7 linked regions of the Homo sapiens genome follow. The protein of the gene in region 2 purifies or fractionates together with the protein of the main gene of each other region. This does not show direct contact. Each region holds a gene or a part of one and is shown on either strand. Other genes may lie near its edges.

The links.
Region 1: the proteins of RAB10 (region 2) and MAPK8IP3 purify together in Homo sapiens (co-immunoprecipitation; one study listed by IntAct). This does not show direct contact.
Region 3: the proteins of RAB10 (region 2) and HCN1 purify together in Homo sapiens (co-immunoprecipitation; one large-scale study listed by IntAct). This does not show direct contact.
Region 4: the proteins of RAB10 (region 2) and UQCRC2 fractionate together in Homo sapiens (co-fractionation; one large-scale study listed by BioGRID). This does not show direct contact.
Region 5: the proteins of RAB10 (region 2) and GDI2 purify together in Homo sapiens (co-immunoprecipitation; 3 studies listed by BioGRID and IntAct, with this or other methods). This does not show direct contact.
Region 6: the proteins of RAB10 (region 2) and ITGB1 purify together in Homo sapiens (affinity purification with western blotting, with the first as the bait; one study listed by BioGRID). This does not show direct contact.
Region 7: the proteins of RAB10 (region 2) and LGALS3 purify together in Homo sapiens (affinity purification with western blotting, with the first as the bait; one study listed by BioGRID). This does not show direct contact.

Annotation. Positions count from the first base shown.
Region 1 is NC_000016.10:1,768,023-1,770,851, reverse strand, and holds the end of MAPK8IP3 (C-Jun-amino-terminal kinase-interacting protein 3), read right to left. Parts: intron 2,784-2,829; coding exon 2,745-2,783; intron 2,654-2,744; coding exon 2,474-2,653; intron 2,376-2,473; coding exon 2,226-2,375; intron 2,150-2,225; coding exon 2,028-2,149; 3' UTR 501-2,027; downstream 1-500. Other genes in the region: NME3 (nucleoside diphosphate kinase 3), read left to right, coding at 86-203.
Region 2 is NC_000002.12:26,040,584-26,044,083, forward strand, and holds part of RAB10 (ras-related protein Rab-10), read left to right. Parts: intron 1-3,500. UniProt on the Homo sapiens protein: The small GTPases Rab are key regulators of intracellular membrane trafficking, from the formation of transport vesicles to their fusion with membranes.
Region 3 is NC_000005.10:45,689,881-45,693,380, forward strand, and holds part of HCN1 (potassium/sodium hyperpolarization-activated cyclic nucleotide-gated channel 1), read right to left. Parts: intron 1-3,500. UniProt on the Homo sapiens protein: Hyperpolarization-activated ion channel that are permeable to sodium and potassium ions. Displays lower selectivity for K(+) over Na(+) ions.
Region 4 is NC_000016.10:21,977,361-21,980,760, reverse strand, and holds part of UQCRC2 (cytochrome b-c1 complex subunit 2, mitochondrial precursor), read right to left. Parts: intron 215-3,400; coding exon 61-214; intron 1-60. UniProt on the Homo sapiens protein: Component of the ubiquinol-cytochrome c oxidoreductase, a multisubunit transmembrane complex that is part of the mitochondrial electron transport chain which drives oxidative phosphorylation.
Region 5 is NC_000010.11:5,782,435-5,785,934, forward strand, and holds part of GDI2 (rab GDP dissociation inhibitor beta), read right to left. Parts: coding exon 3,418-3,500; intron 2,840-3,417; coding exon 2,708-2,839; intron 1-2,707. UniProt on the Homo sapiens protein: GDP-dissociation inhibitor preventing the GDP to GTP exchange of most Rab proteins. By keeping these small GTPases in their inactive GDP-bound form regulates intracellular membrane trafficking.
Region 6 is NC_000010.11:32,923,731-32,927,230, reverse strand, and holds part of ITGB1 (integrin beta-1 isoform 1A precursor), read left to right. Parts: intron 1-1,121; coding exon 1,122-1,360; intron 1,361-3,490; coding exon 3,491-3,500.
Region 7 is NC_000014.9:55,132,252-55,135,751, reverse strand, and holds part of LGALS3 (galectin-3), read right to left. Parts: intron 2,401-3,500; exon of another isoform or gene 2,398-2,400; coding exon of another isoform or gene 2,360-2,397; intron 1-2,359. UniProt on the Homo sapiens protein: Galactose-specific lectin which binds IgE. May mediate with the alpha-3, beta-1 integrin the stimulation by CSPG4 of endothelial cells migration.

The sequences.
Region 1 (2,829 bases), on a different chromosome or scaffold from region 2:
CCCGTCCGGCCTCCCCCTGTTCAGCCTGCGTGGTACCCGTGCCGGAGGTCTCTTTCCCACGCTCACACGCGCCTCTTCCGCGCAGGAACCTGATTCACGGCAGCGACTCGGTGGAGAGTGCCCGCCGCGAGATCGCTCTCTGGTTCCGCGCAGACGAGCTCCTCTGCTGGGAGGACAGCGCTGGGCACTGGCTGTATGAGTAGCCCGGCAGATGCGCGTCACAGAGGCTCTCACACTCCAGCCTCCTCCAGGGCCCAGGTGGGCGGGCTTCTGGCCCCACCCCACAGCGCTTGGAGCATCCCTTTGGACGGGCTGCTGAACATCCACCTGTCTGGACGTTGCATGGAGGGTGGCGCAGGCCTCTCCAATCCCTGGCGTACAGGGTTTCCTGCCCGAGGAGCTGCTCCAGGAGCCTGCGCGGCTCGCCTGGAAACGTGCCAGGACACTGTCCTGGTGCCCAGCCCAACGTGGTCCAACGTTTTTTTATAATAAAGTCCTCGTTTTCGTTTCGATTTGGGCCCAGGAACAGGCAGCTACGACGTTAAGACATTTATTACATACAGAGCAGATATGTGGGTTTGCTTGCAGGGCCAAAGCCTGAGGAGAATCGTCACCCCTCCCCCAGCCGCCCCACTGCTCAGCCCGGAGTCACTTCGAGATCCTGGGGGAACAGACGAGGGAGCGGACATACATCACAGTGGAGGTGGCAGGGTGGTGGGGAGAAGCCGGCAGCGCAGCGGCTGCAGCCCTCGGTGGCCAGCGGGGCTTGTGGGGCAGCTCCCCAAGATCTGTGCTTCTCTGGTTGGGGGTGGGTGCGGGGGCTGGGCTGCCCTCATAAGGGCCTCCCAGACAGGAGTGCAGTGGGCCTGGAAGGTAGGAATAGGCCAGAGAGGCCCAGCTGGGCAGGGAGAGCAGTCCAGGGTGGCGTCTGCCCTCTGCGGGCTTGGAGTCGGCTGGGGGCGGCTCCATCCTCAGCCCCACGGGCCTCTGCTTGGTGGCCTCTCTGTTGCTCCCTGGAAGCAGGCCACAGCGGGCAACCCTAGGCACTTAGTAGCGTGTCTGGGAGCTGGGCTCCGTGGAGCCCCGTGCAGGAGGCAGGCCCCGGGAGCACATCATCCCCCATCAACCTGAGGCTGAGCCTGTGTCCTAGGACTGATCCCGGAGAGGCCAGGGGCCTCCCCTTCTTCCTGAGGCCTGGGCCTGCCCTGGCAGCCTGAGAAATCCCACCCTGGGGGCTTCTGGGAGGGACAGGACTCCAGGGCCCACTCCTCCAAGGTGAGTCTTCTGCCCAGGCAGAGCCTGGGGGGACACGGGTCAGAACGGGGCTGGCAAGAGCCTGCCTGCATGGGCAGGATGGGGTAGCAGTCTCTGTTCTCAAGCAGCTGCCCCAGGGAGCCGGGCCTCGTGCTTTTATGCCAGCTCCCTGGGCAGGGGACAGCTGGGGTGGGGACAGACAGGATAGAGGCTTGACGACGGGGAGGCCCCAGAGAAGGCCGGCTGGGGTGCAGGCACCTGGGCAGCCTGAGGCCCACCTCCCTGGGCAAAGGCTAGTGCCTGGCCCAGCTCCCCTAGGCAGAGTGAGGGCCCAGGAGGCAGGGTGGCCCCATGAGCAGCATGCAGAGGTGGGCCCAGGGCAGGCAGCCTCGGCGGCGGGGAGCCCCTGCCTCCTCCAGGGGTGCTGGGGAGTAGGAGGCCCAGGGTAGAGCCAGGACCACCTCGGATTCTGCCTGCGCTGGGCCCAAGGTGCCCTGGACTTGAGGACTCTGGGCTGGAAGCTGGCCAGGAGCTGCCCGGGAAACTGTCCCGAGAGCATCTTCCCCTCGGGTGGAAGTTCCCCTCCCCTCCTCCTCCCAGCTGATCCGCATCCCCGCACTCCCTGCCCGCTGGAGGGGCCAGACTCAGGTGAAAGCTGCAGGTTGAGAGGTTAGAAGAGGGGCGGCGGCGCCTGGCTGGCTACCCCGCGGGCCGGGCGGGGGTCAGGTGGTCGGGGGTCCTATGTACAGGTCGGGCCAGGCAGGGCAGCAGCTTCACTCGGGGGTGTAGGACACCTGCCACACGATGATGTGACTGCGCTCTGCCTTGGACAGCACGGGCTTCACCTGGCTCATGTCCCCTGCGCCCTCCTCCGTCTCGTCGTCCTCTCCGTCTCCTGCGGGCAAAGCAGCAGAGTGACGGCCAGGCTCCCCCCGCGCCCAACCTCAGCCCTGTCCCTGGGCCCCGCTCACCAATGCGGAAGTCGATGTAGCCCTCCCCGCCGCTCAGCACCAGCACGTTCCGCAGCTTCTGGCCCTCGACCTCCGAGGCAGGGGCAGCTGGCCCAGGGCCCTCGGCTGGGCTGTCCAGCACACTCCCATTCAGGGTGGCCAGCACGTTCCCTGGGATGGCAGAAGCGATTCAGGACAGCGGCCTCCTGGGGGAGGCGGCGGCCACTGGCATGCAGGGGATGTGGATGGCAGGAGGGGCCCAGCCTCACCTGGCACCGAGACAAAGAACTTCACGGCATCGCGGTGCCCATGGAAGCATAGCTGGGCCTGGGCCATGGAGCAGTAGGGGATGAAGCTGCTGGCCGCCCTGTCACTGCTGTCATCGCCATACACGTGGATGATGCCCCCGGGACGGGCGCCCTCCCCAGAGGTGGGGGATGTCTTATTGGCTGCAGGGAGAGAACCCAGAGGCGCTGAGCCCGCATACAGGTGGAGAGTGGGAGAGGCTCCCGTGAGGGGACACGAGGTGGCTGGGCTTACCTCGGAGCCCCAGGAGCTGGCCTCGGTGCAGGACCACAGCTGGGGACATGGGAGGAGCATGGGAGAAGAGGAGAGCGGTCAGCGT
Region 2 (3,500 bases):
GGAGTTCAAAGGTGCAGTGAGCTCGGATCACACCACTGCACTCCAGCCTGGGTGACAGAGCGAGACCGTGTATGATAAAACAAAAACAGAAAACATCCAGAGGTTTGTATAGAAGTAGTTATCTTGCAGGTGTTCAGAAGGACCTGACTGCCAAAATAAGGCAGGCCCTCATTATTTCAGGTGCAGTCATTTAAGTTTCTTATTGGCTATGGTTTTTTGAAGAAATAATTTTTATAGATTTATAGGATGGTGTTCACAAAGACTACTGTATTTGAATTTTTCTATATATTTTCAATTCTCATACATCCGTATTAGAAATTATGTATTGTATTTATGGTCAGATTTATTGGAGACTGCTGCAAAAAACAAATTACTGGTATGGTACACTCAACCAATCTCAAAACGAATCCAAGGGCACCAGAATATAAGTTGCACAAAGGCAGAAATCTTTGTCTTTTTTTTTTTTCTCATGTGTGCTAAACACCTGGAAGGGTACCTGCATTTAATGGGTGCACCATAAATAATGAATGAAGGCAGGCAGGTAGGCAGACAGGTGGTACAATCAGGATCCCCTTAATATGAATTGGGGGTAGTTTATGTAAAATTTTTCCTTTTTACCTACTTTCTGATCATTATATGAAGTAGATTGGGATCAGACTTACCAATATTAGCTGTGGCCGGGCGCAGTGGCTCATGCCTGTAATCCCAGCACTTTGGGAGGCCAATGCAGGTGGATCACCAGAGGTCAGGAGTTTGAGACCAGCCTGGCCAACATGGTGAAACCCCGTCTCTACTAAAAATACAAAAATTAGCTAGGCATGGTGGTGTGTGCCTGTTGCCCCAGCTGCTTGGGAGGCTCTGAGGCAGGAGAATTGCTTAAACCCGGGAGGCGGAGGTTGCAGTGAGTTGAGCTCGTGCCACTGCACTCAAGCCTGGGTGACAAGAGTGAGACGCTGACTCAAAAAAAAAAAAAAAAAAAAAAAGAATGTTAGCTGTTTGGCTTAATAGGGCAAGACTGCTCTTAGAAATTGAAAGGTTGGGGCTGGGTTTGGTGGCTCACGCCTGTAATCCCAGCACTTTGGGAGACCGAGGCGGGCAGATCACCTAAGGTCAGAGTTCGAGACCAGCCTGGCCAACATGGTGAAACCCTGTCTCTACCAAAAATACAAAATTAGCTGGGCGTGGTGGCGCATGCCTGTAATCTCAGCTACTCTAGAGGCTGAGGCAGGAGAACCGCTTGAACCAGGGAGGCGGAGGTTGCGGTGAGCCGAGATCGTGCCATTGTAATCCAACCTGGGCAACAGGAGCAAAACTCTGTCTCAAAAAAAAAGAAAAGAAAAAGAGAAATTGAAAGGTTGTTTGAAAAATAGGCTTAAGAGAGTTACTGCTTTTGGATGAGAAGATTTCAGTGGTTGATTTGACCATAACCATCTTGGTAGTATGAGCTCAGGAATGCGTTACTTATTAGTGATGTGGGAATTACATGGATTTGTCCCCAAAGCACAAGCTTTTAGTGGGCTGCTTCTATACTGGATGTGCTACCTTTTGGTGTCATTAATCCTTTCTCCACCACAGGCTTACTCATTTTTTAACAGGGAATATTTTTCACTGGGAATTGGAGTCTCTCGGCTCCATGTAAGAAATCAAGTTGGTAAAGGCTCTTGTCCCTAAGAGAGGTATAATACATACATTTTGTTGTCAGGATGATTTTGCTAAGTTTTGGAAGAGTAGGTTGGTTCCACTAACCTGCATTTAAGAAATGATTGATTAGGCTGGGTGCTGTGGCTCACACCTGTATTTCCAACACTTTGGGAGGCTGAGGCAGGAGGATAGCTTGAGCTCAGGAGTTCGAGACCAGCCTGGGCAACTTAGCGAGACCCCATCTCTACAAAAAAAAGCTTTTAAATAAAAAATTAGCTGGGTGCGGTGGTGTACACCTGTAGTCCCAGCTACTCAGGAGGCTGAGATGGGAGGATCACTTGAGCCCAGGAGTTTGAAGCTGCAGTGAGCTATGATTGTACCATCTCACTCCAGCCTGGATGACAGAGTGAGATTCTGTCTTAAACAAAAAACCCCAAAAGACCATCCAGAGTGCTTGTCTCGGTAGCATATATACTAAAATTGGAAGGATATGGAGAAGATTAGTATGGTCCCTGCGCAAGGATGACACGCAAATTTGTGAATTGTTTCATAATTACTATTTAAAAAAAAAAAACCTCTGTAGGTATTTCTCCAAAGAAGCTAAGCAGATGCCCAATAAACATATGGAAAGATGTTCAGCATCACTAATAATTAGGGAAATGCAAATCAAAACCACAGTGAGATGTTACTTTGCGACCATTTAGGATAGTTATAACAACAACAACAAACGACAAAAGCAAGTGATGAGGTTGTAGAGAAATTGGAACCTTGGTGCATTGCTGGTGGGAATGTGAAATGGTGCAGCCACAGTGAGAAACAATAGGGTGGTTTCTCAAAAAATTAAAAATGAAATTACCATATGATCTAGTGATCTCACTTCGAGTTATATCCAGGATAATTTAAATCAAAGATTCAAACAGGGCCAGGCAAGGTGGCTTATGCCCGTAAATCCCAGCACTTTAGGAGGCCAGATTACTTGGGCTCAGGAGTTCAAGACCAGCCTGGGCAACATGGTGAGATCCTGTCTCTACCAAGAAACCCCCCAAAATTAGCTGTACATGTTGGCGCATGCCTGTAGTACCAGCTGCTTGGGAGGCTGAGGTGAGAGGATCACTTGAACCCGGGAAGCGGAGGTTGCAGTGAGCTGATGATCATGCCACTGTACTCCAGCCTGGATGACAGAGCAAGACCCTGTCTCAAAACAAACAACAACAAAAAAGACTCAAACAGCTATTTGTACACCAGCATTCATAGTAGCATTATGCACGATAGCTGAAAGGTGGAAACAACTCACATGTTCATCAGTGGATAAATGGATAAACAAAATGTGGTATACACATAGAATGGAATATTATTCAGCCTTAAAAGGGAGGGAAATTCTAACATGCTACCACATGGATACGCCTTGAAAATAGTTTACTAAGTAAAATGAGTTGGACACAAAAGGACAAATAATGTGTGAGGTACCTATAGTAGACAAAATTAGTGGAATAGTGGTTACTGGGGCCTGGGGGACAGAGTAATGGGGAGTTATTGCTTAATGATCACAGAGTTTTAGTTTGGAAGGATGAAAAAGTTCCAGAGAGGAATAGTGTTGATGGTTGTATAACAGTGTGAATTAATTTAATGCCAATGAATTGTACACTTAAAAATGTTTGAAATGCATGAAAAGACAAATACTATGTGATTTCATTTATATGAATATGAGGCTATCTAAAGTCAAATTCATAGAAACAGAAATAATGGTGATTACCAGGGGCTGGGGAAGAGGGAAATAGGAAGGTGTTTAATGAGTATAAAACAACGCATTACAGTTTTGCAGAATGAAAAGGCTCTGGAGATCTGTTGCACAATGGTGT
Region 3 (3,500 bases), on a different chromosome or scaffold from region 2:
AAACAGCCTGTAAATATCATAACAGGAATGTCAACCTTGGAGAACCTACGTTATTCGTGTCATTTTAAGAAATCTGTAAACTGGAGGCAGTATTAATTGGTCAAATCAATATGTATAGAATCTCTAGAATGTTCATAGGCAGTCATTCCATTCCCTGAACTTTAGCCAAAACAATGAAGAGTAAGGTGCGAAGATGTTTGTTGCAGCACTTTTTAAAAAATACTGAATAACTGTATACAACAAAGCTGATAGTCTAAAATTTATAAATATTTACTAACTTTGTATGTATGTAAAATTAGCCTTATGTTTTTAGAGTTACAGCTAGTGACCTGAAAATAAAATTAGGTTTATATAAATAAAATTATAAGTTGTAAATTTAAAGCATGAGTAATGTTGCTTCCTTGCTTTAACTGCGTGGTCAACTATTAGACAAAATAGAAAAATACTATGAGAAAACTAACTAACATAACTTGAAAGAGTCATGAAATCAATCTTATCAAAGTTGGGTGAAATGTGTCAGATAAACACTCAACTCAAAAATAATCAACTTCTATATATATTCTTTACTTCTATATATATTCTTCTACAAAGTCCCTTGAATAGTTTCTGTAGCACATATATACAAATAGAATTAACAGAGCCATGAAGGTTTATTTTGCAAAAACATAAAATTCCAGGATGCACCAGGAATCCTGATTTTTTTTTCCTGTAAAACTAATGGTAAGTTGTACATCCAGATGCCTTCACAAAGAAAATTATTTTTAGAAGAAAAGTACTTAGAGAAAATATAATTTTCATAGTGCATGCAGACTTTTTTCTTTATTATCACTATTTCTACAACTAAAATATATAGTGTCAGCCTAATTCATAGTTTGTTACTCCTTTACACAAAATGATAAAATGAAAATTTGTCACAGACCCTGCAAATGCTCAGTACTCTTCATGTAGTGCTAATGATCTGCAATAATTTGCACTGTACTTACAAGAGACTCTATTTGAAAGTTCTTTTCCGGAGCCCAATTGTTGTTTCTAAATAATGAAGTGAATTATCTGCTAAACACAAGAATTATATTCAGAATGATAAGATTATCACCTGAAAATCATACTAAATGCATTCTGCTGGTTTCCTGCTCACTATAGGACATAGGTGCATTGAGTATAATAATGCAGAATTACAAATACTATTTATCTTGCTTTGTGGTGGTGATGTTGTTTTGGTTTGTGGTTTTTGATCAAGCAGATATAGTTGAATATAATTTTCTTAAATGAACCTATGATACAAATAATAAGTAATATATCTTTCCAGTGCATTTAAATTTCTTTCATTATTCAACAGGCACGTTCATAAACCCAAGTCCACATAATTAAATATGATTAGTAAAGTGTACCTCTTTACTGATTCTCAATTTATAATCATACCCCGAAGGAGGTTTAAAGGGAAAGTTGCTCAGAAAAAAATGAAAACTATCTTATAATATTTTAATAGTATAAATCATAATATCTACTAAATGCAACAGTGAAACATTTGCTAAAATTTAAAGTTGCATAACTTACATGTATACTAAGAAAAAGTAACTAAATAAATTCACACGTTTAAATCTTTGAAGAAATTTCATGTTGTGTCTAACAGTTGCTAGAGCCACTAAGAAAAATGTAATTGAACTTAAAGCACAAAAAGGTTCACCTAACATAGAAAAAAAATAAATTCTTATGGTTAATTTTGGCTATGTTGATATGAAAAGCAAATAAAATAAGCATTGCTGGCAGATACAGAGTGTGTTCAGCACAAAGATAACATAACAGTAGGCTAATTCGTCTTTAAACCCTAGAAGGTTGAATTGTTTTCTTGTGAGAAGCTCCTGGAAGCAAATGTTCTCTCTATTATGAACTGTATAATATGGGTGAAGCCTCCCTTCCCTAATGAACACATCAGTGATCTCTGATATCAGTACAGTTGTGGCTGCAATTCAAAGCAGAGATGGAAGAACGGATGTGACGGTATCTTCAGGAAGTAACTCCCATCTCTAGAGTCCTTGAGTACTTACAACAAAATAAGCTTTTCACACACTCATACTAATGATGAAAAGAAATTGAAAAAAATAAGAAGTCAAGATACAAAACTGCCTCCGTTATGAGGAGCAAGATGTTGGCTGGCAATACATATGGAAAGGAGCATTCTTTTTAAAAGTCCCTTTGTGTAAGCATGATGGAACAAAATAATGACAGAATCCCTAAAATGGCAAATAGTCTGGTGATAAATTCTTCCAAGATAAATTGCTTGCATAATAAAAATCATCCACAAAAGTATTCTAAATATTCTTTCAACCTATTTAAATGATTATATCATAACTATCAATTGGCTATGGAAGCACAATGCTTGCCAAGCATCACTTTTAAACCTTAGTAAAATTCTAGCTAATTAATATAAAATCACCATGAATTTTTAAAAATCATATTTAACCTCCAAATTAAATGTGTCTATGTGTTGTTCACATGAAATTCAATAAGACTAAGACCATACTGTCACTACAGAAAAATCGAGCTACATTTGTTTTTAAGTAACTATCCCTATTTTCCCTAGTTTGGGTGCTTATATACCACAGCATAAACAAAAACATGAGCTTGTTGTGTTTACTAAATTCTGTAGCTTCCACCCAGTTATTTCAAACAGTACCTATACTATTGGACTGCTTTTTACTCTCTGAAGGTTTCTATTGTCATCCTCTGCTGAGGAAAAAGGTAAATACAGCAACTCTGCCCTACTTACGCCAGGGGTAGAGAAAACTACCTGCCAGACACAGCAATAGCACTCTTGGGCTCTGGTGGGGAAAAGAGGCACTAGCTAGCTCTCTGAAAGTCTCAGTGGGAGCACAGCCTTGTCCCTTGAGGTAAGTAAAGTAGAAAGCTATCAGTCTTAAAAATTATCGTGAGCAGGGAAACTAGAAACAGTGTTAAAGTCACGACATGCCCTGGAGTAAGAACATAGTAAACTTCTCTGGCCATGTAAAGGTTTATTAAAAGTGTCAAGGAAAAGAATCCTCTGGATATCTTCATTTGTAATAACTCCCCACTCTTCATAGAAATTACTCTTAAGTGTCATTCACTCAGTTGTTAAATGATTAATGAACTTAAGTTTGACATTTTAGGAATTGTAGTAAAGCACCTCCCTGAAATAATCCTTCAGGAAAGGGCCTAAAGTAAAGGCTAGATCATGACCGCAAAAATTTCTAGTATCTGTTGAAAATTACTCACACATTCCTTTCCCTGTAGAAAAAAACTACCGCTAGAATTTTGTCTTTCCTATTTTTGTTCTTTCATTACATTATCTTGACGTTATAGATTTTAGAAAATCTTATATTGGTTTTGAGATCATACAAAAAAATGAAACAATAAGATGTAAATATATTCTGAATGTAAACAAGTACATGATTATTTTTGCAGTTTGTTTTAGAACACCAGTGTATATTGTAATTATGTTTTAAAATCTATTTTTTCAGATA
Region 4 (3,400 bases), on a different chromosome or scaffold from region 2:
AAATTGGATCATTAAGGTTAAGTTCTCTGTTGTTAAATCGTTAAGTTTTCATTTACTTACATTTATGATATCAGCATTAGCCACTGAATCAATCTGCTGAAGGACTGTGGATGGTGGCATGTAAGAACCAGCAACTAGAGCCTGGGACCCGACTTCTTCCAGGAAACACTCAGAAGACTCCACTGACATTAGGTATCCAGCTTTCAGCTTGTTCCTGTCCAATAAAAGGCAGAAGTCAGTTTTAGAGAGCAAGGCAATTATTTTTTTTTTCTGAGTGGTGGCGGGGGGCTGTGAACATCAAAGCTTTATTTAATGGATAGAGTAACAGCGTGTCTCCCTCTTCCTGAATTCCCCAAGAAGAATGCCACTCCCTTCTCTGGAACATACTAAAACAGTAAGTCTGAAGGGAAGAAGTCTCTTCAGGGTTGCCAAAGTGTCCAATTGAGGGCCCACTTTGGCCTCCATTTGTGGGTCCATATGCTGCTACAGATTTGAGTGAGACAGCTGGAGAGCTCCCTAATGCTTCCCAAGGCCTCTGGATCCGGTTGTGCAATCTGGATCCTCTGCATGTCACTGGCCAGTCGCAGCATGCTCTTTCTCCTGCCCACTGGCACAGTGAGGAAGATCTCTCTGCTGTCAGTGAGAAGGCTGTCATCCACTGAGATGGCAGTCAAAAGTGCATTTAATACACCTAACGTATCGAACATCATAGCTTGGCCCAGGTTATCTCATATGTGCTCAGAACACTTACAATAGCCTGCAGCTGGGCAAAAGTCTTCTAACATAAGCCCATTTTGTAAGGAAGCATTGATTATCTCATGTACTGCATATCACTAGCCTAGGAAAAGATCGAAATTCAAGGTATAGTCATGTACTACATAATGATGTTTTTGGTCAATGATGGACCACATATATGATGGTGGTCCCGTTAAGATTATTAGGGAGCTGAAAGATTCCTATTACTTACTGACAACATAATGTTGTAGTGCAATTTTAAAAAAATAAATTTAGCGTAGCCTATGTTTACAGTGTTTAGTATCTACAGCAGTGCACAGTAATGTCCCAGCCCTTCCCATTTACTCACCACTCACTCACTGACTCACTCGAAAGCAGGAGCTATGCCATAAAAATGGCATACCATTTTTTTATCTTTTGTGCTGTATTTTTACTGTACCTTTCCTATGTTTAGATGCACAAATACTTACCTTTGTGTTATAACTGCCTACAGTATTCAGTACTATAGTACATGCTATACAGGTTTGTAGCCTAAGAGCAATAGACTATACCATAGAGCCCATGTGTGTAGTAGGCTATACCATCTAGATTTGTCTGAACACTGAGGTTCACACAGTGATGAAACCACCTAACACCACATTTCTCAGAATGTATCCCCATCGTTATGTGACCCATGACTGGAAGCTGAAATTGCGATGGTTTTCCTCCATAGTCAAGTTGAAAAATTATAATTGATCCATGGCAAGTTGGGGACAGTGTATATTGTAAACCTACCTTTTGGCTGCTACAGTGTGAAGACCAGGGATCTTGAAGAGCCTTCTGTCAAACCAGGGTGTCAGGCCTGTACTTGGTGTCACCACAGACAACTCCACCTGGCCCACAGCTGGGGTCACAGTGTTATAAAGGTCACAGTCTTGACCTTTTCCTTTTGCCTTTTCCTTGTATGAAGTGGGTTCTCTTCTTGGATGGAGGATACCGTTCAATGCTTGTAGTTTGAAGATTCTCATGTTTATTTTCTTCTTATGCTATCGTTTCACTTGTATTACCTGTGAGTTTTGGCAGGTTTCGGGGGTGTCTGAAGAGCTTCTGCTGTCTGTTTATTTCTGTGATATCCACTTCAGCTGTTGCTGCCTCTTTTAGGGCCTGTTTGTTTTCACCAAGGGTGAAGTAGTCAAGCCAGTTCCTCTTACACAGTGAAACAGGGCAATTTTAAGGTATGTGCCCCGAAACTCAACATATTTTTGGTAAACAGGCAAACTAACAACTTACAGTGCTAATGGCCTCCATTCTATTTCTTCAGTTCACCAAGTACGTGAACCGTTTACGTTACTATTTGGAAAGCTGTCAGTACGAAATTATACTGAAAACTCCACAGATTGCTTTTTGATTTGGGACTAGAACTTAGATCTAGGTAAAACTATTTTAATGTAAGGTTTTGATTAGTGAAGCAACTCCTGCCTCTTGCTGAGATTTGTCTGTGAGCATAGGGTATGATGGAAAAGGCAGGTGGGGAAGGGCAGTACAGGTCTTGTAAGCAACGGCAGCTTAAATATGGGCACAAAAGCATCCACTTGAAATAAAACAAAATCCAATTCACAATTCTCCCAGAAACTTATTACTTATAGACATGGTGTTTGATAAGACAGTCGAGTTATTTGAACCTCAAACGTTTATCATCCTTTAACACTCTACAGAAAGACTTCCATTTAAACATAATTACAATTTAATGCTGCAGTTTTACCACGTTGTCAGCTTAATTAAAAAATGATTTTACCTGCAATAAACTACCAAGAGGTTATTAGTGTGTCCTTTCGGCAATGACACCTCACTTTCTCTCTTTCACTACAGGAAGAACTTACAAGAAAAAGTATCAACTCCATCAAAATGGCAGAAAACATACTTTGACATTAATATTCAAAATTCTACTTTCTGCTTATTACCATACCTTGTAAGAACTGTGTTACACTTATTAAGAAAATACGTTTTCTTAAATAAATTAGATTTGAAAAACTTAGGTTTTTCTTAAGTAAATCCAGTGTTTCAATGTATTCTCATCATGTTTTGTTTCTGGTACAATCAAGCAGCCCTGCATCCTATCGATTCTTGGTTCTATGTATACAATATTTAATAAATTGTGTTGTACTTATACAAGAGATGCAACTTTGTAGTGTGCTCAGCATAACAAAACTAACAATACTAATGGGAACAGAAATGACCAAAAGGTTGTTCCATCCTGGGTTGTAATTCTGCTTCCCCTGTGGGCAATACTAAATGATCATAACGACCACTGGAGTTGCAAGATTCACATTTTGAATTGTTCTAAGTAGATGGAGTCAAACTTAAATGTCTTAAGCGGCTGTATGAAAATGCAGGTTGATTTCCAACTTTGTCCCAAGTCTGTCTCTTTTAGAGAAACCCTCGAACTACTAATGAATTAGGAGTGTTGATAGCACTTTCAATCTGGACAGTGGGGATTTATAAATTGCCAAATAGCAGACAAGTATTTTAGTCTTTCTTATAAAACAAAACAAAATCAGATCTTTTTTGGGTATAAATTAGTTATGAAGAAAGAAACTATTGTAGAATAGGTACTCTTATATACTGGTGGTATGATTATAAACTGGTACAATCTCTTTAGATTTGTGACTTAGAAATACATTTTTTT
Region 5 (3,500 bases), on a different chromosome or scaffold from region 2:
ATCTGCCACATTAGTCAGCAATTTCACTCCCAGTATTTACCCAAAAGGAAATGAAAACCTATATCCCCACAGAAAGTGTTTTACATAAAAATTTCACAGTGCCTTCATTCATAATAGCCAAAAACTGAAAACTAACTAGATGTCCACCAAAAGGAGAATTATATGCTCATATAATTCATACAAAGGAATTCTACTCAACAATTAAAAAAAAAGAATTGGCCAGGCACAATGGCTCACACCTGTAATCCCAGCACATTGGGAGGCCAAGGTGGGTGGATCACTTGAGGTCAGGAGTTCAAGACCAGACTGACCAACATGGTGAAACCCCATCACTACTAAATATAAAAAATTAGCCGGATGTGGTGGTGCATGCCTGTAATCCCAGCTCCTTGGGAGGCTGAGGCAGGAGAATCACTGGAACCCAGGGGGTGGAGGTTGCAGTGAGCTGAGACTGCACCACAGCACTCCAGCCTGGGCAACAAGAGTGGAACTCCATCTCCAAAAAAAAGAATTACTGACACATGCATCAATATGGATGAATCTCAAAAAATGAAAAAGACACAAATGAGAACATATTGTATTATTCCTTTTACATGAACTTTGAAAACAAGCAAAAGTAATCTATAGTGACAGAAATCACAGAGGTGGTTGCTGGGGATGGGGGGCAGTATTCATTATGAGGTGACACAAGGGAACTTTATGGGGTGAGGAAAATGTTCTATACCTTCACTCAGGTTTTAGTTAAACCCAGGACAGGGATAGGTCTATAAATTTATCAAACTGATTTTTTTTAAAATATATATAGTTATAAAATAAAAAATATAAGAATAGCTACTTCTGCTCGCTTCTGGTGTCCATTTACATGAAATATATTTTTCCACCCCTTTACCTTAAATTTGAGTCCTTTTGTGTCTGGTGAATCTCTTGAAGACAGCAGATACTTGGTTGATGAGTTCTTATCCATTCTGCTATTCTGTATCTTTAAAGTGGAGCATGTAGGCCATTTACATTCAACATTAGTATTGAGATTTGAGGTACTATTCTATTCATCGTGCTATTTGTTTGCCTGAACACCTTGTTTTTTTTCTTCATTGTGTTATTGTTTTATAGGTCCTGTGTGATTTATGCTTTAAGGAGATACAATTTTGGTATTTTGAGAATTTGTTTCAAGATTTGGAGCTCCTTTTAGCAGTTCTTGTAGTGCTGGCTTGGTAGTGGCAAATTCTCTCAGCACTTGTTTGTGTGAAAAAGACTACTTTCCTTCATTTATGAAGCTCTGTTTCACTGGATACAAAATTACTGGCTGATAACTTAAGGAGGCTCAAGATAGGATCCCAATCCCTTCTAGCTTTTAGAGTTTCTGCTGAGAAATCTGTTAATCTGATAGGTTTTCCTTTATAGGTTACCTGAGGCTTTTGACTCACAGCTCTTAAGATTCTTTCCTTCATCTTGACTTTAGTTAACCTGATGACTATGTGCCTAGGTGATGATCTTTTTGTGATGAATTTCCCAGGTGTTCTTTAAGCTTCTTGTATTTGGATGTCTAGATCTCTAGCAAGGCCGGGGAAGTTTTCCTCAATTAATCCCTCAAATTTGTTTTCCAAACTTTTAGATTCTTCTTCTTCCTTGGGAACACCAATTATTCTTAGGCTTGGTTGTTTAACAAACTTATTGGAGGCTGCGTTCATTTTTTTAAATTCTTTTTTGTCTTTGTCAGATTGGGCTAATTCAAAAGCCTTGTCTTCGAACTCTGAAATTTCTTTCTTCTACTTATTCAATTCTATTGCTGAGACTTTCCAGTGCATTTTGCATGTCTCTAAGTGTGTCCCTTGATTTTCAGAAGTTGTGATTATTTATTTATGCTATTTTCCTGGAAATTTTTCCATTCATATCCTGTATCACTTTTTTTGTTTTGCTAAGTTGGACTTCACCTTTCTCTCGTGCCTCCTTGATTGGCGTAATAATGACCTTGTGAATTCTTTTTCTGGCAATTCAGAGATTTTTGTCTTGGTTTAGATCCATTGCTGGTAAGCTAGTGTGACCTTTTCAGAGTGTCAAAGAACCCTGTTTTGTCATATTACCCCAGTTGTTTTTCCAGTTCCTTCTCATCTGGATAGACTATGTCAGAGGGAAGATCTGGAACTCAAGGGCTGCTGTTCAGATTCTTTTGTCCCACAGGGATGCTCCCTTGATGTGGTGCTCTCCCCTTTCCCCTAGGGATGGGGCTTCCTGAGAGCCAAACTGCAGTGATTGTTATTTCTCTTCTTGATCTAGCCGCCCAGTGGAGATAATCAGGCTCTAAGCTGGTACTGGAGAGTGTCTGCAAAGAGTCCTGTGATGTGATCTGTCTCCAGGTCTCTCAGGCGTGGATACCAGCACTTACTCTGGTGGAGGTAACAGGGGTGTGAAGTAGATTCTGTGAAGGTCCTTGGTTGTATTTTTGTTAAGTGCGCTGGTTTTGTATTGGCTGGCCTCCAGCCAGGAGTTGGCACTTACAAGAGCACATCAGCTACAGTTGTATAAAACTGGATTTTTTTTAACTGAAGATCCATGCATATCATTATATGTTAATTTTATTTCAATAAAAATAAAAAGCATCTTATTACTCATAGACTGATCTCATCTCATTATTTAAACTATATCTCATATACACATTATGTTGAAGATGAGGTTTTGGATCACTGAGGTTTTAAACACAGGCTCTTACCTTGCAAATCCTTGGGGCAGTTCTCCAAGGCCATAGAGTGGATAAAGGTATGGGCTTTTGCCATATCTTGCCAAAGATTCACTGTAAAGTTTAATTCTATTAATGGTTTCATAACACGGTTGATCTAAGTAACTGGAAGAAAGGAAATGAGTATTAGGAAAGGGCTTTAGTTTTCATTCATGGTGTTCAATTTATAATTTTTTTTGAAGCGATTTCAATCCGCTATCTTCTTTTTTGTTTTTTTGTTTTTTGAGACAGGGTCTCACTCTGTCGCCCAGACTGGAGTGCAGTGGTGCAATCTCGGCTCCCCACAACTTCCACCTCCCAGGCTCAAGTGATTCTTCTGCCTCAGCCTCCCAAGTGGCTGGAATTACAGGGACGCACCACTACCGCCCAACTAATTTTTGCATTTTTAGTAGAGAGGGGGTTTCACCATGTTGGCCAGGCTGGTCTTGAACTCCTGACCTCAAATGATCCACCCAACTTGGCCTCCCAAAGTGCTGGGATCACAGGCGTGAGCCACCACACCTGGCCCACTACCTTTATATTTAAATCACTTAAAAGGTCCCAACACTAATTTCAACTAGAACCTCTTCATTCATAGTGCAATATGGCTAAGTATTTGTTTTGTTAGAATTTCCACTTGGAAGACTTGGGAAATTTAGTGAGAATTTCAAGAAAAATACAAATCTAAAAACCAAAATACTTACTCATCAGTTCTGTAAAGTGCAAGAGCATGACCAGTAAAATCTATAACGTCTTGACCCAAATCAAATTTCTTATACACATCTCG
Region 6 (3,500 bases), on a different chromosome or scaffold from region 2:
AGCCCTATTTTAGTGGAAACATTTAAAAATAGCACTTGCTTAAAATGTTCTTTTATTCTGTAAGCATAATTCAAGGACCATGGCATTAGGGAGCTCCTATCAAATTAGTGTTTTTTAAAATGGCCAGAATTCTAGAATATTTGTTTATTCATTTGTTCAGCATGTCATTATTGAGAGCTGGTGTGCCAAGAAAATGAATGTGAGTTATTTTTAAAGTAGGGAGGCAAAATAAAAAGATTGTCTTAGGTCTTAGTCCATTTGTGCTGCTTTAAGAAAATACTATAAACTGGGTGGCTTATGAACAACAGAAATTTATTTCTCACAGCTCTGGAGGTGAGAAGTCCAAGATCCAGGCAGATTGAGCATCTGGTGAGGTCCCTCTTCTGGGTTCATAGATGATACCTTCTTGCGATGTACTCACATAGCAGCAGGGAGACAGCAGCTCTCTGGGGCTTCTTTGATGAGGTCACTGTAGGAGTCTATTCTTACGTTGCTATAAAGACATATCTGACACTGGGTAATTTATGAAGAAAAGAGGTTTAATTGGTTTACGGTCCTGCAAGCTCTACAGGAAGCATGGCGCTAGCATCAGCAAGGCCTCTGGGGAGGCCTCAGGAAGCTTCCAATCGTGGCAGAAGGCAAAGTGGGGAGCAGGCTTCTCACATGGTGGGAGCAGGAGCAAGAGTTGGGGAGAGATGCCACACAATTTTAAATAACAGATCTCATGAGAACTCACTCACTGTGGTCAGAATAGCACCAAGCCATGAGGGATTGATCTGCCCCCATGATCGAAATACCTTCCACCAGGCCGTACCTTCAACATTGGGGATCACATTTTAACATGAGACTTGGGCGGGGACAGATACCCAAACTGTATCAGTTACTAATCCCATTCATGAGGGCTCTGCCCTCATGATCTAATCACCTTCCAAAGGAACCACTTCCTAATACCATCATGTTGGGAATTAGGTTTTCAATGTAGGAATTTTGGGGTAACACAGACATTCAGTCCATAGTAACCTACATTTGGTAACATAGATGAATTTTTTAAACAATGCAAATCTCTGTCTTTCCATCTATCCATCCATTCATTCATTTATGTACCATTTTTTTCTTGGCAGGATTTGGCTCATTTGTGGAAAAGACTGTGATGCCTTACATTAGCACAACACCAGCTAAGCTCAGGAACCCTTGCACAAGTGAACAGAACTGCACCAGCCCATTTAGCTACAAAAATGTGCTCAGTCTTACTAATAAAGGAGAAGTATTTAATGAACTTGTTGGAAAACAGCGCATATCTGGAAATTTGGATTCTCCAGAAGGTGGTTTCGATGCCATCATGCAAGTTGCAGTTTGTGGAGTAAGCGCATTCATTTCCTATCAGGGGATATTGTTTCTATTATGTGTGTGAATTTTAAGTGTGATTTTACTATGATAATAGAAAAATTGACCTTAATTTTCATAGATTTGATTATCTTAGAGAAGTAATTTTAAGTAAACCCTTAAATTGCCTGTATACATAAAGTGCCTTTATAAAAGCATATTTAATCTTTATGCAAACCACACAGTTAGTTTATTCATGCGGGCTTTTAAAAGACAGAATGCTAACCATTTGAAACAGCGGGGCAACCTCTCTGTACTGTAGCTGGTGGTCTGGATTTTAGAAAAGCCCATGTGTCCTAACTTTCTGGCTTTGTACTAGAGATAGAATTGATGTTATTATCTGAGGCATCACCAGGAACCTTGAAATTGCTCAAAGGGAGAGTGTCTTGTATCATTTTCCTTTGGTCAGTTTTCTTCTCACTGTCTTTGAAAGACACATCTTTCTCCTGTGTCTTAGTAATTCAAAAAGAGAGAACTTTTTAAGCTCTAGTTTTTAACCTATATGAATAGATGTATTTTGAGAAGTGATACAATATTTGTAATTTTAATTGTAAGATTTTCAGTAGCAAGCCCATCCCTATTGGTTCAATAATTTGTATTTTATGATCCATGTAGCAGCTATGTATTTTGAGATGACACTTTAATGATGTGGCTGAGGCTGAAACTAGAAGACATTGTCATGTCAAGTTTGTCCTGCGTACCTACTCTTGTCTCATTTTTGTTCCCTCCAGTGCCCCCATTCTCTAGATGACCTTCTTTGATTTTAGAGGCCTCTTAGTGGTTATTTTTCAGTCAATTTTTGCTAAGGTGCTAATTGATGCCCAAAATAATAAGTGAAGGAATATGGATAGTAATTAAGAATTTTTCTATCACCACTGATGCTGGGCAATTTACTCAGCCTCTCCAGGGCTGTTTTCTTCTCTTTAAGAAGGGATCATGATAGTATCTACCTCATAGGGCTCTTGTGAAGTTAAAATGCATCAATCTCTATAAAGTACCAATGAGCATTCAGCAAATACTAATTCCTATATTGTTATTACTTTCGACTTTTCACTAGAGTGTTTGCAATTTAAGGTTAGTCCCTGCTGTTATAGCCGAAGCAAGTAGCATTCCAGGTAGTACCTAGCCTTACACCTCTTTTCTTACTAGCCATTGATGTGTGAGCCTGTTAGCAGCTCGTTGTGGGGAGGGCATTCTCTGGGCTGCCTCTAACTAGGCCTTAACCTGTGGTATTAAACAAGCCATAACACCCTTGATTGTGGCTGTTTTTCTGTGTTGGTCATGCTGATCCACTCCTCTAGATGCAAAAGAATCAGACATTCCACTTTTGAAAGATTGCCAGTATTAATAAATGTGATTCCCACCTTAAAGTATTTTACTGTCTTATGAAGATCTAAACAGACGTATTAAATAAATTAACGAAAGCAGGTAAATTCCTATAGTCCTATGATTTTATAATTATAAATTACCATAGTGACAAGAAGATTTTACAGTTACTTTAGATTCTTTATTGGAAAGGGCAAGGATAAAGTAAATGAGTGCATAAACAGTACTGATTGAGGAGTTAGAATGGGTGAAATTATCCTTAAACAAGATACTTATTTCTGTTATAAAAAAAGGAAGCCTCATATGGTGGGCTGATAAAGAAGGTGCATGGCATAGAACATAGAGCAGAGATGGGTGGATGGGGACAAGACAGCAGCAGTGGGGTAAAGTAAGGATAGGCTCAGACACTTTCATTTATTCAGCAAATGCTCATCAAGGGCTTACTGCTTGCCAAGCAGTGTGCTGGCTTGCTAGCTGCTGGAGATATGATGATAAGCAGAACTAAACCAAACCAAACAAAACAAAAAAACAGTTTTTAAAAAGAACTGAGAGATTGAGAGATACGGATGGTCAGGCAAGATATCGTTGTACATGGGATGGAAGAGCTTCATTCAGTGGGCTTTGTGTGTTTCTCAGCAAGATAATTACCATTGTATAAAGAGAAGACACAGAAAATACAGAATTAGGTTAAAAATACAATGGTGGCCTATATGAAAATTAAAGGATTTTTGTTGAATTACTGTGAATAGTGTTTTAAAATTGAAATCCTTTTCTTTTCAAGTCACTGATTG
Region 7 (3,500 bases), on a different chromosome or scaffold from region 2:
CTCTATGAAAAATACAAAAATTAGCCGGGTGTGGTGGCGCATGCCTGTGTTCCCAGCTACTCGAGGGGCTGAGGTGGGAGGATCATTTGAGCCTAGGAGGTCAAGGCTGCAGTGAGCTGTGATGGCACCACTGCACTCCAGCCTGGGTGACAGAGCGACCTCATCTCAAAAAAAAAAAAAAAAAAAAAAAACCATAAAATATTACCTTATTTTTGGTAAAACTCAAACAGGCAGAGCTCCTCCTAGGGCTTAACATATGCTTCATTTATACACACTGGATATTTTATACAGGTTGAGTATCCCTTATTTGAAATAGGACCAGAAGTGTTTCTGATTTACATTTTTTTTTATTTTGGAATATGTCCTTATGCCCAGTTAAGCATCCCTAATCTGAAGAGCCAAAATCCAAAATCTCCAGTGAGCATTTCTGTAGAGCATGGCCTCTGAACATCATGCAGGCATGCAAAACGTTTGGGATTTTGAAGCATTTCAGATTTCTGCATTGGGGATGCTCATCCTTTACTATACTGCTATTATTTATATCATAGTCAGACATTACCTTTGACTAAAATATTTTTGCACATCTTTTTTTTTTTTAGACAGGGTCTTGTTCTGTTGCACAGGCTGGAGTGCAGTGACATGATATCAGGGCTCACTGCAGCCTCCACCTCCCAGGCTCATGTGATCCTCCCACCTCAGCCTCCCAAGGAACTGGGACTACAGCCACACAACACCACACCCAGCTAAGTTATTTTTTTTTTTAGACACGGGGTCTCACTATGTTGCCCAGGCTGGTCTCAAACTCCTGGGTTCAAGTGATCCTCCCACCTCAGCATCCCAAAGTGCTGGGATTACAGGCATGAGCCACCGCATCCAGCCACACATCTCTTTTTGAACATGGTCATTCTGAAACCTATTCAGAAGTGGTTAGGTTATGACCATGCCCATTTTCCAACCTAGGGAACTGCTGGCAGCTTGACAGGGAAGTCACGGTGACTCCAGAGGTTACTGCATCTTTCATTTACGTTACATCCTGTAGTGCTTGGCTTTTTAAAGCAAAAGTTGTGAGCTCCTCTGCATGTGCCTCCTTCCCCAAAAGGCTGCCACACTACCGTATAAGAAACCGTATAAGTTGCTACTGCAGGGGGACCTTGAGAGAAGAGTTGTTACAGAAAAGGAAAATAAATGAAAATTTTTAATTCAGAAAAAGAAAGTCTCCCTCATTTTGGATGCCATACGAAACAATCTTGAACTTCAAGGTGGGCAGAAAGCTTAGTTCCTTTAATTACACATACTTCTTCCACCCTAAGGCAACATATCAAAGACCCAGCAATAACGTTATCAACATTTTGATTTCTTTTAAATGTCCTCATTGCACAGGAGCTTATTGTGAACCTCAGCACCACTGACACTTCAGGTCAGATGCTTTGCTGTGGGGCGCTGTCCTGTGCACTGCAGGATGTTCAGCAGCATTGCTGGCTTCAATACATATGCTGCCAGAACTCCAGCATACCACACTCCAACTTGTGACAACCAAGTGTCTTCAGGCCAGGTGTGGTGGCTCACACCTGTAATCCCAGTCATTTGGGAGGCTGAGGCGGGAATATTGCTTGAGCCCAGGAGTTCAAGACCAGCCTGGGCAATACAGCAAAACCCCAGTCTCTACCAAAAAAAGGAAAACAAAATGTCTTCAGACATTGCCAATATCCCCTGGGAGCAAAATCATGGCTAGTTGAGGACCGCCAATCTAGCTAGTTAGCAGTGTATCCCTACATGAATGTACACACGTGGTTCAATAAAAACCAAAAAGGTAGTTTCAATTGTTAAAACTAGCTGAATTTGCCTTATAAAGGGTCCTAACATAACTCTATTCAAATTAAGATGTGTTTAAAGGCTGATTCCAACCAGAAAGTCAAATAAAGAAGGCATTTCCATAATTTAATATTTATTCTTTTCAAAGCCTCTGCTCAAGCATGTTTAGTTTATTTTCCAATCTAACCAAATCCAGTTTGGGAAACAAAGCAGATCTCGTTGCATTTCCACTGTTTCAACACCACCTCGGAGGGCAGTATAGATTGTGTCTCGACACATTAGACAAGGCCACTAGAACAAAACCTGGCATTTGTGTGGCGCTTTTCAGCTTATGAAGCATGTTCACATACCTTATCTATTTTAGTTATAATGACATTCTTTGTGGTGAAATCTTGTACTGTCCTGCCATCTCACTGTCCAGCCTGGGACATGAATCATCCCTATGTCCAGCCTATCTACACTGTAGATGCTACCCACCCACAAGTCACTTAGTAGCAGGCTTGGTTATCAGATCAAAAAAACAGTATATATAGGGTTTGATACTAACCATGGTTTGAAGCATCCACAGGGGGTCTTGGAATGCATCCCCTGAAAATAAGGGGGAGACTACTGTGTTCTCACCATAAGGAAACTGAGGCTCAGAGAGATAACATGGTGGCCCAAAGTCATCTGTCATTGGCAGATCAAGGAGTAGGGCTCGTGTCTTTTTACTCCTTATTTAGGCTCATTCTACACCAATAGAAAACATCACACTTTGAAATTTTAAAGTACAGTCCTTTGAAAGTGTTAATTACTTCATTGTGAAATTAATTCTCTGACTTACTCATCTGTAACTACATAACATACTGAAATTGTAAACAAATTTTTTAAAAAGGATTGTGTTTTGGTCAGAAAACTAACTGGGTGATTCATTCAAGCACAAAATAATATTGAATATTGAATACAAGAATGCCATTTTGTATAGTCATTTGCTAATTATAATGACATTTTAACCAATAAAGTGTACTTTTCCAAAAATTGGGTATGCCCCGTCAACTTCCAACCATGAGATTTCTTTTTTGAAAAGCATTATAGGCCGAGTGCAGTGGCTCATGCCTGTAATCCCAGCACTTTGGGAGGCGAAGGCAGGAGGATCATGAGGTTAGGGTTTTGAGACCAGCCTGGCCAACACAGTGAAACCCCATCTCTACTAAAAATACAAAGAATTAGCCAGGTGTGGTGGTGGGCGCCTGTAATCCCAGCTACTCAGGAGGCTGAGGCAGGAGAATCGCTTGAACCCGGGAGGCAGAGGTTGCAGTGAGCCAAGATGGCACCACTGCACTCCAGCCTGGGAGACTGCGAGGCTCCATCTCAAGAAAAAGAAAAGAAAAGCATTATAACTGATGCTCTTTTGAAATCAAGATTATTAACCTCAAAACTTTCAGGAAAACAAAAAAGACATCTATTCAGATAAGTATCATCCTTACTTGCCTGAAATTTTTTTCTTTTTTCTTTTCAGATGAGTAGTTTACAGAGAGAGACATACAATCAAATGTCACAAATCTTCCCACTCTACAGACACTATAGATATGTGAACCCCACCCTGGTGTTTCCAGGATCAGAGAATTTTGAACAGTCAGAGGGGAAAAAAAAAAAACTTCAAAAAATAAACTAAAAGTAGAGAAATACTAGCTGGGTCTCCACATTTG